3 separate regions of the Homo sapiens genome follow, and all the other regions are linked to region 1. The links come from fine-mapping of genetic effects on gene expression. A gene starts in region 1. Each other region holds a variant in brackets. All regions are shown on one strand. Distances are between the middles of the regions. Region 1 holds the start of AGPAT5 (1-acylglycerol-3-phosphate O-acyltransferase 5). Region 2 overlaps AGPAT5 (1-acylglycerol-3-phosphate O-acyltransferase 5). Region 3 has its middle 30 kb from the start of MIR4659B.

Region 1 (5,226 bases):
TTAAAAACTTATAACCTCTTAAATTACTAAAACTCCCTTCAGAAATGAGTCAACAATACTTTATACAGAACAAGAGAATCATCACTAGCCTTGCAAACGAAAGCTGATAAAAACAATTCAAGAAAAAAAGAGTGTCCTAACAAAACAAGAAAAGCAAGCTAAAAATTTTAATCAAAACATCTCAGTGACAAAGTTAATGGTACAAAGTCACAGGTAAAAAATAAGGTGACAGAACATCACTATAAATCTTTTTCCTTTGGGTCTTATGTTTGAAGATAGCTATTTATTCCTCTATTGATTTAATCTTAACAGAAACAATAAAAAATATTGAAAGGTAGCTTTGTGTACACAGGAAACCCAGATTGCAGAAAAAGACCCTAATAAATTCAAAATACCCTGCTCTGTTACTAAACAGAAAATAATTATTTGTCCCCTCCATACAATAAAAATAAAAATGCAGGAACAAGAAACTCTTGGTTTTAAATTTTTATTAAATGTTCATAACTTGCATTTGATGATCAGTGGGCAATCAGTTCGTTCTACGACTCCTAAAGAACTTCATCAAGGAACACACATTAAACAAAATTTTGAATTATACTTAAGGGTCCTCAGGCATCCTTTCATAAATGCATGAAAATTAGTGCTGGATGCCACTTCCTTTGATTTGAACAGACGGTGGGGGGAATGATTAGATTAAATGTTTTCAAAATCACTTGCTGGGAAATCAAGAAGTAAATCGGATCTCTGAACATCAGGTAAGGTATGCAATTTCAGAAACACTGCTAGGTTTTACAGCCATTTAAAAAAATAAGAACTTGCCAAACCAAAAAATCCTTCAATGGTGTATTCTGCATCATATTGTGTCCTCTTTGAACAAAAATAACATAACCCGCCACAGATAGAATTATTTTTTTAAGAGGTGAATGACTTTGTGTTCTGAGCTTATATCCCATCCCAGGCCAGTTGTCACATGATGTGGAAGTAAAAACTTAATCATGATAAAAATCATACATTTAGACAAACTTGGTGGAGTTACCATATAAAGGGAAAAAATTAGCCTGAATTATTGAAATTTTTAAATGAGGCCCATTTTAAACGTCAACTACCAGGAAACCATGACCTGGAACAGTATCTTTTTTTCTTTCCAAGGAGACACTTACAGACACTGGTTTAAATGGAGGCCCTGGCCTCTCCTAGTTCCTTCCCCCCAAACAACTTCCAACTGGGGCCATCAAGGGTCGATCAGCAGTGCAACTGCAAACTAAATATAGTACCTGACTGACCACAGGGTAAAAACAGCTGCTGTAGGTGGAAAAAAAAAAAGTTAAAAAGACAAAATGATACCGTCCCATTTCCCCATGCCACCCTAACCCTACCAAGAAAAGTAAAAGAGGACTAGGTGGACATTAGGAATAACCAAGAATAAAGCTGTTCTTTCAAACTGAGAAATAAAAGAAAAATTCACCTTTTTTTTTTTTTTATAACACTTCAAATACCTACTGTTAAAGAGGGCCTTCCACTTTTATGGTTTGTTTCTCAAGTTTAATCTACGAATCCAATCTCTACAGAGAAACAGTAACAGAAAGAAAGTAATCAGACAACAGATCACCCACACATTCAAGCCCAGTTAAAGTTGGCAAGAAATGTATCTAGTTAGGCTTCTACGGTTAACAAATGTATTCATTTCTTCGCCCAGCTTTCACTTGTCCAGGGGAAAGAACACAAGACCGAATTGTACTTCTGTTTCAAGAGGTCACTGTAAAAGCGCACTTCGGAGTGTAGACGTCTCCGATCTGTTCCAACATGACCACCTCTTTGGACCAAAGGCCAGAAACTGCTAAACGCGTGCCCTATTATTTAAAACGTGCATCTGCACCCACTTTGCTAAGCAGCATCAGACCCAGGCGAGGGGCGGGGAAAGGGGCGGCGGGTCCCACTCGTAGCCTCAGGACGACGCAGCCACAGCTTCCTAGAGAGCGATCTCGGCAGAACGGCAGGAAGCATGCGGAGAGGAAGGCGGGGAGGCGGCACGTGCTCTCCGTGCTGGGTCCGCCGGGCCGGCCGGGTGACCCTCGCCAGCTGTGGGGGAGCGGAGAGGTCCGCGCCCCCGGGAGCTCGGGTGGACGCCGAGACCCGGGAGCGGGAGGCGGCTCACCTGGACCCCGGTGTAATTCTCGAAGAAGAAGAGCACCATGCTCTGGTAGACGCAGTAGAGCCGGTCGTCCAGCGCTTGGTAGAAGCGGGCGGGCAGGAAGGCGGAGAGCAGCCGCCAGACCCCCCAGGCCAACACGTAGGTGGGCGCCGTGCCCAGGAGCACGACGCTGGGCAGCAGGTAGCGCATGGAGTACGTGTGGAGCACCAGGGACAGCAGCATCTTCTCAGCTCGGCGGCAGCGAGCTCCGCCTGCGCTCCCCGCCCGCCTCCCGGGCCTCAGTCGCGGCCAGCAGGCGGCCAATCACCGCCCGGGCCCGGGCCGCCGCGCCCGCCACCCGCTCCCAGCCTCCGCCCCCAGCCGCATGGGCCGCGCCGCCGCCCGGGGCCGGGTAGGCGAGTGCGGGGCTGCGTGCGCCGCTCCCGGCGGCAAAGCAAGGGAACCCGCGGCCCTCCCGGATCGATGGCTCAGGGATGCTCACACCCCATGACCCTCACCCATCGCCACATCCCCCTGCCGGGGCAGGGGGCTCCGCGGCAACAACGCGCCTTCTGATTGGTCGCCCGTTGCCATAGTTCCACCTCGGCGGCAATAACACGTCTCTTGATTGGTTGGTTTGGGCCGACAGTTGCAGTACAGCTACCTGCTGGGGCGCGGGCAACCCGGCTCCGGCCACTGCGCATGCTCCCCAGCTGGGCCGGCTGCGGACGCGGGAAGGGAGGTGGTGGCGACTGACGGAACTGGGTGAAGGTGGGTGCTGGCCGGAGGAGGGTCCGGGTGCCTCTTGTTCTGCTCCCTCGGGCCGGACGTGCGCGCGGTCAGGTTTAAGGGTCGCTGGAGCTGCCTGGAACGCGCACCTGCTGCTCACAAGCCCCTGGGCGCCGGGATGCACACAATTAGAGCAGTGAGAAAGTGGGTGTTAACGTTATCGGAGGTCTAATTCTTGCAGGCACCTGGGCCCAGGTTGTAGGCAGCTCGGCCCAGGTCGCGGGGCAGCTCGAGTGTCCCCATCTGCTCACTGCCAGTCCTTTGCAAGGGGACGCCGCCTCCTCAGCCTCCGCTCTGAGTGCGCAGCAGCCCCTCCTGCCCGTCTCTCGCTACCAGGGTGTTTCAGAATTAGGGTCCGTGTTTTTCCCCATCACAGTAATGATGATAATTACATGTTTATGCATAGCTGAAGAACAATCCCACAAGGATATTTCCATACTGTTTATTAGACCTTTTCAGAATTCACTCTTGCTTCATTTCCTCAGAGTCTGTTGGACTTGTTTCTGATTTTTTTTTAATAAGGAGCCTCGTTTTTTTCTGTAGTAATTAAAGTAGTTGCGTGCACATGTGTAATCCATAAAAAGCATACTTTTGTAGCCTTCACTAAAAGCTACGAAGGGTGGATAACTGTTTTATTGATGTTAAAGCAGATCCACAGGACTTTTGGATCTTTCTCCTCCCCTTTGGCTGTGGTAAAAATGGTTTAATATGTAACCCTTTTCAAGGATAGTTGTACTTTAAAAGAATGCCGAATGCTTTACCATATATATATATATATATATATATATATATATATATATATTCCCGCCCCCTCCCCACCACCACCATAATGGGAGCCTGTGCTACCTTTAGGCAGGACGGTATTTCAGTGGGAAGTTCTAATCAGGGCCAGGATGGTAGCTACTTTCTTTATACATGATTAACATCAAATAACAACATCATTGGTAGATGATGACCTTTGGGGACAAAGCCAGGTGAATGGAGATCTCTCAAGTAACAAGTATTTGAAGGCCAGCAGGAAGCATTACACAGTAAAAGGAGCTTCTCTCTTTCTGTGGCTGTCATTGTCCTGTACTGTAAGAAGCACTAGGTTTAGTACTGGTGGAAAAAAGTCACAGGTGTGGACAGTGTGCACAACTAATGCTCCTTATGCTTTCTTTAACTGAGACCAGACATCTCTACACTAGAACAGTGTGCGAAAAGATAAAGCAGGTTCTGTGTTCACGTTAGGATTGCTGTGTATAAAGTCAGTAAATATGTGTTTATGTGTAAATTTGTTGTGAATCACCCCAGATTACTGTTAGTCACGAAGTTGTAAACTTTTGTGCAATGTTTGCCATGAAAACACAGAACTTAACTTTCTCTTGTTCCCTCTTTATCTCCAAACCCAGCTCCTGACTATCAGTTATTGTCTGTCCTGCTCCCGCTCCTCTCTTCCTGCGAACAGTCACAGATCCACCCTCTCTTTCTGCCACTACCCGGCCCTGTTTTTCTGTTTTTTTTTTTTTCCCTTTTTCCGTGCAAACCTCTTAGTTGATAATCAGCCCACACCCTCTGCCTCCTTACCTTGTACTTTTGTTGAGCCCTTGCAGTCTGATGACCTTTTCCTCCCCTTTACTGGAATGGTGCTTCTTTCAGAGCACAGCTGATTTCCTCCTTTGCATACCCTGCTGGGCACCAGTGGAACAGTGAAAGGTGAATTCTGTCTATGCCTTCCTTGTACAACATTTAACAAGGAGTTACCTGTGGGATGAAAAGGGGACATTCTTGGTTCTCTGGGAGCATATATCAAGGCAATCTAATTTAGTCTGGAGACAAGGAAGACTTCTCAGTGAAATGGTATTTCAGGTGAAGCTTGAGGGACTTAGTGGGCTTTCCATGGGAGAATGGCACATTTGAACGCCTGAAGCTGAGAAATCACCATATTCTCATGCATAGCACTGGAGTGGGCCACAGTGTTCTTTTTAAAATTTGTTGAGATGCCCCTTGAAAGAATGCTGTGTATTCCCATCACACATTCTTAAACTGATATTTAAATGTTTTTCTCAGCTGGGCATGGTGGCCTATACCTGTAATTCCAGCACTTCAGGAGGCCAAGGAGGAAGGATCACTTAAGCGCTTTGTAGAGTGAGGCCTCCATCTCTACAAATATATTTTTTTAATTAGCTGGGTGTGATTGTGCATGCCTGTAGCCCCAGCTACTCAGGAGGCTGAGTTGGGAGGATTGCTTGAGCCCAGGAGTTCAAAGCTGCTATGAGCCATGATCGCGTCACTGCAATCCAGCCTGGGCAAAAGAGAAAGAGTCC
Region 2 (5,226 bases), 25 kb before region 1:
CCAACACACCTTTTAAATTATGCCTTTATCACTTAAAGAAACAAAGACAAGCTTGAAGATTAAAACCAAAATAACAGATTTGACAAAAACCACACAGCACTTCATATAATGAAAAACAATAATTTAAAACACTGAAGTTGAATGGATTTGTATCTATTCTGGATTGTATTTTAGAACAGAAAAAGGACATTAGTGGAAAACCTGGTAAAGTCTGAATAAAAATCTGTAGTACAATTAATAGTGTGGTACCAATGTTTATTTCTTAGTTTTGACAAATATATACCATGTTATGTAAGATGTCAACATTAGATGTTAAAGCTAGATGAAGAAGGCTGGGCGTGGTGGCTCACACCTATAATCCCAGCACTGTGGGGGGCCGAGGCGGGCGGATCAAGAGGTCAGGAGTTCGAGACCAGCCTGGCCAACATGGTGAAACCCTGTCTCTACTAAAAATACAAAAATTAGCCGGGCATGGCGGTGCACGCCTGTAATCCCAGCTACTCAGGAGGCTGAGGCAGGAGATTGCTTGAACCCGTGAGGCAGAGGTTGCAGTGAGCCAAGATCGTGCCACTGCACTCCAGCCTGGGTGACAGACCGAGACTCCAACTCAAAAAAAAAAAAAAAAAAAAAAAGGCTATATAAAGAATAAACAGGAACACTCTGTTCTTTCTGACGTTTTTGTAAATCTAACATTGTTCCAAGTTTTGAAATTTATTAACCAAAAATGGGAGGCGGCTTCCATTAAGTATGTAGAATGCTGAAGGAATACTACTGCCAACCCTACAACAACAACAACACTGACAAGCTGTAGATTCATGACTTTTCTTAGACCCTTCAGAGAGCTGCAAGGTTGCAAGGCAACCAACTAACCCAAAAGTCTAAGGAAACATGGAAAACTCAAAGGAGAAACAAGATGCAAGTGGTTGTTTAGTTGGGGGCCAATGTAACAGATACCAGTAAAAAGAATTTAGCTAAAAATTTTAACAATTTTGCAGAAAGCCAAGTATGAGCCAGTGGAACAGACGAACCCCTGGGCTACAGACACAAGGAGAATGCAGCACATTTCACAGGCTCGACCCACAGACCTCCTGTGTACTCACAAGACAAAGAAAAAGGAAAACACACTGCGGTCAGGGAAGACTGGATGTAGGCTTGTGGGAGGGAAAAGCAGCCCTGTGGGAAGGGCTCAGGGCCCAGCCCACATCCTTCTTTCTACCTTTCCTATGGAACAGCAGCCTGAAACTGATGAACAGGGGCAACAAAACCCTGCTACCCATGGGGCACGGATGAATACTCGATGAGGCTGGGTGAAGAGAACAGGGAAAAACTCTTAGTAAAGGCAGGAATACATACTGGGCACAGACTTACAGCCAGAAGCAAGGCAGGATCAGAGAAGGCTCCACCCCTGAGATTCTCCCTAAGAATGAAAAGACACTTCCCTTCCCTCTCCTTCTACCACCAAACTAGCGAGAGTTCAGTAACAAGTATCCAAGAAGTATAGTGGGGAAAGGCATAAAGAAGAGAGCCACTCCAAGGTGCTATGTGAAAACGCTGAGTGTGAAATAGACACTGAGGAAAAGCTCTAGCGGGAGGACATCCCCAACCTACAAACAAAGTAATGAGTTCTACAGAAACCTGAAGCTGTGAGAAAAAGCACATGAGCAAAACCCAAATGCAGTGCACCTCCTCAGTGGACTGACTCCACTCCTCAACACTAAAGGCCAAGCAGAAAGACAAGTCTATCCATTTCCAGGTATCAAGACAACTTGCCTCCATTTCTCCTGTCTTACAAAAAAGGCCCAGCGTTAGGCAAAATCTTAGGAAGTATGACAAAGGCAAGATAAAGCACAATCTGAAGAGATAAAGTAATCAAAATTTGCAGACTCAGATATGGCCCAGATGTTGGAATTATCAAGCAGGGAATTTAAGAGAACTGCAAGTATAATAAAATGATAAAGGTTCAACTGGAAAACGTGACTAAGCTTTATGATCAGATAGATACACTAGCACAGAGATGGAAACTATGAAACAGGGTCAAAGGGAAATGTGAGGAATGAAACACGCAGTAGCAGAGATGAAGAGTGCCTTAAACTGGCTCACCAGTAGACTCAACACAGCCAAAGGAAGAATCCATGAACTCAAAGGTGGGTCAACAGAAATTATCCAAAATGTAACACAAAAAGAAAAAAGGGAGGGGGCGTAAAAAAAAAAATTAAAAAAAAAACCAACAAAAAACGAATAATGCATCTAAGAACTAAAGAACAGCGAGAAATGAACCAACACAAACATAACTGGAGAAGAAAGACTGGGGTAGGAATAATATTTAAGGAAATAAGAGCAAAGAAATTTCCAAAATTAATAACAGACACCAAATCATAGATCCAAGCTCAGAGGACCAATCCAGGTAAAAATTTTTAAATGACACTCAGATATATGATACTTAAACTGCTGCAAACCAAAAACAAGAAGAAACTCACGAAGGCAGCCACATAAACAAGACACATGACAAGTGTAAAGAGCTGATTTTTTCAGCCCTAGCGCCACTGGCAGCTATATTCATGGGGGCAAAAAAGCAAGGGGCCACTGTGCATAGGATGCCAACATCACCCAAAAGGCAGCTATCTTCATTTGCTTCATATATACAATGCCCACAGCAGGACACAGAAGGAACTCCACAGCAGTCATCCATTGCTGGGGTGACTGGACAGCTGGGAGAGAAGTGGGATGGACATTTTAAGGTATAAATTCATGATTTTTAAATTTTTTTTGTAAAAAGTCGATAAACCATATTACCAACTTATTCTGTCTTTTGGAGACCTACATGCAATGACCACAATTCTGCCCAAATTCACCACACTGTTTCAGACTAAACAGACCCTTTGAAGACACCAAGCTTGGTTCTCAAGGGTTAGCTATAACAGGATAAAGGGTCACTGTTCATCTCATTCCATTCTGCTTCTGTCACCCAACACATGCCCAAAACAGATGCAATGTTCTAATGTAAAAACACCTAGAAGAGGCATGTGAATAAACAATGCTCACACCAGGCACTTCGCCAGCTGACCGTGAAGAATTCTTCCTTCACCATGAGCTCCAGCTGCTGCCCAGGACCCCTGGTGAGGGGAGGGCA[G/A]GAGGAGAGGAGGGAAGACAGAGGGAGGGAGCCAGAAAGGAAAGGGAAAGCCTGTGCACACGAGCTAAGCTTCTGAGCACATGTCATGTACTGAAAGAGAAAGCCCAAGTCGCCCCGGTGATCATGGTGCTTTGTCTCCGGAGGGAACCAGGGGAAAAGCCTTTGGCAGCAATCAGCATTCTATACAAAGCAGATTGAACTCTCCCCACTTTTGTGGAATAAAGTTTTATAAAATATTATTTACACTGAATGATTTAACATTTGTAGAGATTCATCCTTTTTTGGTTTTTCTGTACATGTAAGACATTCAAAATTTGCACTAACAGAAAACAGTTGCTGCTTCTAAAACCAAATCTGATACTAAAGAAGACAAGAAGTAAGATGAGCTTGTAAACTAGCTTAAATGTCAGGTTAAAATGCAGTTAGTTCTATTTATAGACTCTGAACGACACCAAATGCTCTTTTTATTCCTCTTTAAGGTCCACTGACCAGCAAAGGACCTAGTTGTTTACAGCAATCTTTCTGATGGCTGAAAAACCTGCCTACCTGTACATAGAGGGTTTCTGTTACCTCAGCATAACCCTGAATTAGTAATTACACATGGGAAAATACATTGTCAAAACAATTCTTAGATTTTAATTTAATTCTTAAATTTAGAAACTGAGAGCTGGTAAGAAAAATAAAAACGGGTAGGCTCTTACTGGAGTTCCTGCGTCCACGTAGCTCTGCAACTTGTTTCGCATCTCTTTCTCGTTAAATTTGGCACTGCGCTTTACATAGATTCCTCCATGCTGCCACAATCAAATCGGGAGAAAGAGCATTTACTTTTAAAATAACAATTGGCCAGAGTCATCAAAAAGGCAACTTCTCTTGCAAAAAGTACAGAATGAAAACTACATTTCAGAATTTAATCTATATTTAATATCTTCAAACATTAGCTTCTAAAGAACATTTAGCTGAAAATTGCCTTGTCTCAACATAATTCAAAAAAACTGCATGTGACACTGTATTGGAAAACACATGAAGTTTAGTTTTGTTGGCAGTTAAAATGAAAATGCTTTCTTTCTTAAATACACATTTTTAAAAATAAAAAACCTGATCCATCAGATGGATTTAACTCCCAATTCTTCCACCCACTTATTACAGAGTCACTAAAAAGCGTCCTTAACATGTCTCACGATCTTTAGGGATTTTAAAAAATCAATCCTGCTAAAGATATTTATGTGGCACTGTTACGGACAGAAGTGTGTTCCCCCAAATCAGTCTACTAAAGCCCTAATAGTTCCCACTGTGACTGTATTCAGAGAGAGGGACTTAGAGGTGGTAATTAAGGTTAAAAAAGGGCCTCAGAGTGGGACCTTAGCAGTCTCTGTAGAAGGATTAGTCATCCAGTGTAACTAGTCCTTCTAAGAAGAGGAAGCAGTGCCAGCGGTGCTTGGGCACAGGGAAAAAAACCACCTGAGGACACAGGAAGAAGGATGCTGTCTGCAAGCCTGGGAGAGAGGCCTTGGGAGAAACTAACCCTGTCAACACCTTGATCTTGGATGTCTAGCCTCCAGAACTGGAGAAAGTAAGTTTTATATATACAGTTTGCTTTTTTTTTTTAATATCATACAGATCACTAATTACTGTTATCAACAGTTTAATGTAATTGCCTATCAAATTCTATGCCTTTAAATTTCCTATTTGTTTGAACTTTGTACATTTGCATTTTTGCTCTTTCATTTTACTGCAGCTGGCCCTTCACATCCATGAGTTCCACATCTGCAGATTCAACAAATCACAGATCAAAAATATGTGAACAAATAAAAATTAAAAATAATATAACAATTAAAATAATACAAATAAAAAATAAAGTATAACAACCATTTACATGGCATTTATAATGTATTAGATATTATAAGTAATCTAGAGATGATTTAAAGTAGTGCACAGGTTATATGCAAATACTATCCCATTCTATATGAGGGTCTTGAACACCTTAGATTTTGGTATCTGTGGTGGTTCTAAAACCAATCCCCACAGATGCTGAAGGAAAACCGCATATGGATAATCAGACGTATATAAATACACACCACTAAAAATGCCAAACAAAA
Region 3 (5,226 bases), 67 kb before region 1:
TACAGTTTGTATGTTGCCCCCTCTAAGTCTCATGTTGAATTGTGATGCCCAGTGTTGGAGGTGGGGCCTGGTGGGAGGTGTGGGGGCCATAGGGACAGATCCCTCATGATTTGGTGCTGACCTTGCATAGTGAGCAGGTACTTGCGAGATCCGGTTGTGAAAAGTGTGTGGCACCTCCTCCTTCTCTCTTGCTTCTGCTTTCACCATGTGACGTGCCTGTTCTCACTTCACCTTCCACCATGAGTAAAAGCTCCTTGAGACCTCCCCAGAAACTGAGCACAGGCAAGCGCTATGTTTGCTCAGCCTGCAGGACAATGAGCCAAGCCAACCTCGTTTCTTTATAAATTACCCAATCTCAGGTATTTCTTTAGAACAGTGAAGAATGGCTTCGTACACCACCTTCACAACCTCATCTAAACCTAATCACCTCCCAAAGGACCCGCCTCCAAATCCCATCACATTAGGGGTGAGGGCTTCAATGTGTGAATTAGGGGTGGGACACACATAGCCCATCACACCCTTGTCATTGGGTTTAACAAGTGATTGTTCTAAGGATGGGCTGATCAGCTCAGCTTGTGGAGACAGCGTAGCCTTCAGAAAGACAAACCCTCGGGTTGGGTTTTGAGAAGTGAGTAGGAGTTTGCCAGGGGAAGTGCATTACAGAGCAAGGAAAAGGGGATCCTGCCCAAGAGTTTAGGTGTCATCAATCTTTCTTTATAGTTCATAGAGTAAAATAATAACAAATGCATCCAATACATCACTCATTCAAAAAGCATTTAATTCAGCTGTTACTAACGTCCGTGTGAGAACGTGCCTGCGGAATCGCTGGTGATCGTTCTGCTCTTATGCCTTTTAAGAGCTCTCTAGACAGATGGACACGCACCGAGTTGCTTTGAGAATGTCAGACGTTAGAGGCGTATAGATCACAGTAACTGTAGGAGGGAGGGGAGATTTAAAGCATCCAGGTTGTCTTAATTTACTTCTGTCTGGCACAGGCTTTGTGTGTACTTGACTCTCCTGGGAAGCTTCCTGAGCTGGGGCCTGAATACAGGTGTGGAGGGAGCTCTGTGGGCAGAGACACCAGAGGGGCCTCACCAAAAGCCAAAGGCCCCACCCGCATCCAGAGTGGGGAGTGGAGTGGTCAGAGGAGAGGTGTGTGACTTTCCCGACGGAACACATCACGTCTTATGTGTTGGCATCTCCTGCTACACAGTGATTCTCAGAGCTTAGGGGTGATTTTGTATCAATCTCTTTATTAGTTTGCTTGGGCTGCGATAACAAATATCACAGAGTGCATGACTCAAACAATAGAAATTGATTTTCCCACAGTTCTGGAGAGTAGAAGGTATTGGCAGGGCTGGTTTGTCCTGAAGCCTCTCTCCTTGGCCCCTAGACGTGTGTTCTCCCTGTGTCCTTACAGGATTTTCCCCCAGGTGTATCCTCGTCCTAAATCTCCTCCATGTGTAAGGACCCAGTCAGATTGGATTAGGGCCATGTAATGACCTCGTTTTACCTTAATTACCTCTTTAAAGTCATATCTCCTTCTGAGTATTAGGGGTTAGGACTTCAACAGAAGAATTTTAGGAGGACCGAATCCAGCCCGTAACAATCTCCATGACCCCAGAACCACCTGGCACAGGGATGTGTTTTGCACATGTTTACTTGGTCAGCCTAAAGGCCTTTTTACTTCTGCTAAACAGCTTCAGGCCCTGGAAAACAGGGCTAACTTGTTAACTGGCAGGTTGAGGGCAGGAAGATCTGTGGATTGGGCTCTGCCAGGCAAGGCTGGGCTGCAGGCTCGGGCAGATTTTGAGTGCCATAAGAGGGTGCTGGGCAGGGCTGGGCTGCAGGCTCCGGCAGATTTTGAGTGTCATGAGAGGGGACAGCCAGGGGCTCTCTGGACTTCAGCAAGGGCTCCTGCCAGGGTCTGAGCACCCAGGTGGAACAGGTTCCCTAGCGGATGCCTCTCAGCGCCTTCCCAGACTCCTCCATTCCATGAACAAGCCAGGACCTGCTGAGGGGGACCAGGAGGTTCACACCTCAAGTGCAGTGGATAATAGCCTACTCACGGCTCACCCCAAATCCATCCTTTACCCTGATGTCACCTGTGGCAAATAACAACAGAGCCAACTCCCACTCACTGTCCAGAAGCCTGCCTGGTAAGGGCTTTGGAACCCAAGGAAAGACACCGAGAAACACTGCAAGAGGCTGCAGCCATCACAGCCCTGCGCCTTCAGAGTTCGGCACTGCTTGTCCAAGTCACTGTTCCCTTGAAGGAAGACACTTTGTAAACACAAAGAACAATGAGAAAGCATCGAGAAGAATAGAATCTTTGTCAGGAGCCAGGCTTCAGT[C/A]CTGCCCAGCAGGTCCCTGCCATGGGGGAGGGAGGCCACCCCTGTTTCTCCAGGGAGGGGCGGGTTTCAATCCAGGTCCGCTTGTCCAGCTTGCTCTGTGAGCAGTTTCAGCCACACACCCACACAGCATCGAGTTAAGGACTGGAAGTTACTGTTTCTATAGCTGGAAGGGAACGTGAGGGTGGTCTCCATCTACCCACTTTTTCGTAGATGAGAGATTCCGGCCCAGAGCGGCCGGTGTCTCGCCAACGCAGACAAAGATCGGGAGCAGAGCCACATTTCCAGCCGGTGGTGTTTCTCGATGCCTCCCTTTGGAGCTGCACCAAAGGCTCTGAGGCACGTGCAGAAAGCCCTGGTCTGGGGATTAAGCAAATAGATTTGGACTCTCCTATTCTTTCAGTAACTTTGAATCGATTATTTAATCTGTGATGTGTGAGCTTCCTTGGCCTCAGCTGTAAAATCAGGAGGAGTTTCTGTTTCACAGGGTTCTCGTAAGGAGCGGGCAGGATAACGACACCAAGTGCCGACACATGGCCAGGTGCACATGAGGCAGGACCCAGTGTGTGGTCGCTCCCTTTCCCCAAGCGGCCTCTCCTGCCCCACACCTGGACTCCTGCTAGACGCACACACCGCGCTCTTCCCAGCCATAGTGAGGCCTTTCCCTGGGTGTTGTCCCGGCCTGCAGTGACCCTTCCTGCTAGTTCATCTGTTTTCTAGAGCTCCGTAGACAATTACACCTATGCTCACATGGCAGCACTTCTAATGGTTAGGTCTGTGACCTTGGGCATCTTCTATCTGTTCTGGGATTTTGTTTCTTTTTCTGTGCAGTGGGAATAGTGACGCCAACTCTATACAATTGCGAGGGTTAAATAAGGCAGGTGGCAGGCTGGGGTGCAGTAGGCATTTGAGCTATGACCACTCATTGCTGTGGCTATTGCTGCTGCCTCAGGTCTGGTTTGAGACCTGTCTTCCGGTTTCTCTACGGAAGTGAGAAGCCGTGAGACACAGTGTGACCTGTGGCAGTTCTCTGGCCATTGTCCAGGCAGCGTGTGCACCTGTGTGCTGAGGGCTGGAATCATGGCTCAGGTGGCATGGGGCAGAGTCGGTGCTAGGGATATGGGTGGGGGCGCTAATCTGGGAATGTGAGGACATCAATACTCTGGGTCATAGCTTGCAGGATTAATTGTGGCTTGGAGGTCAGGCCCAAGGGGTGCTGCTGATGGCAGCCAGCATGTCGGCTTTCAAGAGTGTGGTCAGGAGTTTCTTAACCATCCAAAGATCTTCAGCCTGGGGAAGAGGCATCAGCATGTCCTTCCCTTTATTCAGGAAGACACCAAGCACATGCTGACCTTCGAAGGACAGTGATTTTGGCCAAGATCGCCCCTCCACAAGGACATAGACAAGGCCAGGACCTTAGAGTTAGAAAGAATTGAGTGTGCCTTGTAAATCCCCTTTCTCCCTTCCTCAAGTTTAATATAAATATCCAGCCATGGCAGGAAGACAGGCCAGCCCAGCCCAACTCAGCCCAGCCCAGGCAGCTGCTGCAAGAGATGACAAGCACCAGGACTGCCCCGGCCTCCCCAGAAGACAGGCTCCACGCTAGTGGCAGGGGCAGGCAGGGCTTGCAGGTGAGAGACAGGGGCAGCTGTGGGGGTTGGCAGCTCTCACTGCCGCTGCCCGGGCTGGGCTGGGTCGGGTTGGTCTGGGCATGTGCCAGCTGCCAGTGCCTGCTTATCTGTGACTCAGCTGCTACAGCATCAGGCACTGAAGTTGGTTCCTCATCATCAGTGAGCTGCTCCCACCGCCCCCAGGCCTGGTTGAGGCCTTGGGGACCTGCAGAGGACCCCATGCTGCCTCTAACCAGGTGAGCCCAGGGCCACGCTCTCATGCTCTCTAGCCTCAGCCTCCATATGGGAAAGTCTCTCTGCAGGTTCTCTCTGCTCCATGACTCAGGTCCTGTGAGACCAGGGAGTGGGCTGCCCGGACTCTGACTGGCCTCCAGGAGGTGGGGACAGGCTGTCCAGGCCCCCGCAGAGATCCCCGGGATGCTGCATCGGCCGTGAGTTTATGAGCTTGCCCCCAGAGAACATGACCTCACCTAAATGGAGCTGACACGTTTTACAGGGGACTGGAAGCACATCTGAAAGAGACCGTTCCACAGAGCTAGTTTTGCTTTTTTACTGCCCCATTAGAAGGAGTGGGGGTGTTTCTAGCTGGGACCGAGCTCCAGCTTGAAGGCAGTGGTTCCCAGTAGGGAATGCGACCCCACGGGGGAGGGACGCAGCCTGGGGGAAGCTGAGCGTGCACACAGCGCGGTGGGCTCACGGTTTGCGCGCAGGCTGGCACAGACTCACGTGAGGACATTTTTAGGGCGTGTGCGGCGATGAATGCAGCAGAGATGCGCTTGTCTGTAGGCTGGGAGTGGGAGGGAGGGGATACTGGCAGCGTGTGCTTCCGGCTGCAGGACTGTGCGGAGGACTCCAGTGTCTGACAGCGGCCTGGGCGTAGAGGGATTGAGTGTGGTTCCCACTGGGGTCCATCTCCCCTCGTGAAGTGCCGTCCTGCCACCAGGCAGCCCCCAGGGGTGGACAACACCAGAGCTCAGGGGCTTGAATGCTAAGGGCTTCCCGCTTGCTTTCCCCTTCACGCATGTAACCCTGAATTCTTACCTTTCACCCAGCGTGGATGAACGCAGGCGCTGCTCCTCATCTGCGGCTGTCCAGACAGGCTTTCAGGTCACGCTTAATGAGAAACCTCGGGTGTCTGATCTTGTCCGTTAGCTAGGCCTTTTCTCATCTTCTATGGTTTCAAAATAAAATACCAGGAGCTTCTTTTACCCCTGTGACTCTAGGCTACCCTTGTCATTTCAGTC

The links. PIP is the estimated chance that this variant, and not a neighbour inherited with it, causes the effect.
Region 2: its variant is the best candidate, but not a certain one, in a credible set for the expression of AGPAT5 in spinal cord (GTEx, PIP 0.61).
Region 3: its variant is the best candidate, but not a certain one, in a credible set for the expression of AGPAT5 in esophagus mucosa (GTEx, PIP 0.81).

What each region holds. Positions count from the first base shown.
Region 1 is chr8:6,705,817-6,711,042 of GRCh38, reverse strand. AGPAT5 (1-acylglycerol-3-phosphate O-acyltransferase 5) reads right to left here and starts at 2,401. Exons shown (of 8, transcript NM_018361.5): 1 at 2,156-2,401. The coding sequence starts at 2,374. MCPH1-AS1 (MCPH1 antisense RNA 1) reads left to right here and starts at 2,834. Exons shown (of 5, transcript NR_125386.1): 1 at 2,834-2,902. RefSeq lists silencers at 2,008-2,247, 2,308-2,647.
Region 2 is chr8:6,731,256-6,736,481 of GRCh38, reverse strand. It overlaps AGPAT5 (1-acylglycerol-3-phosphate O-acyltransferase 5), which reads right to left. Exons shown (of 8, transcript NM_018361.5): 4 at 3,832-3,921. Among named protein-coding and RNA genes, the nearest start is that of MIR4659A, 11 kb to the left of the region's middle. The variant G/A (reference allele first, on the strand shown) is at 3,131.
Region 3 is chr8:6,772,911-6,778,136 of GRCh38, reverse strand. No RefSeq gene overlaps it. Among named protein-coding and RNA genes, the nearest start is that of MIR4659B, 30 kb to the right of the region's middle. RefSeq lists an enhancer at 3,515-4,015. The variant C/A (reference allele first, on the strand shown) is at 2,355.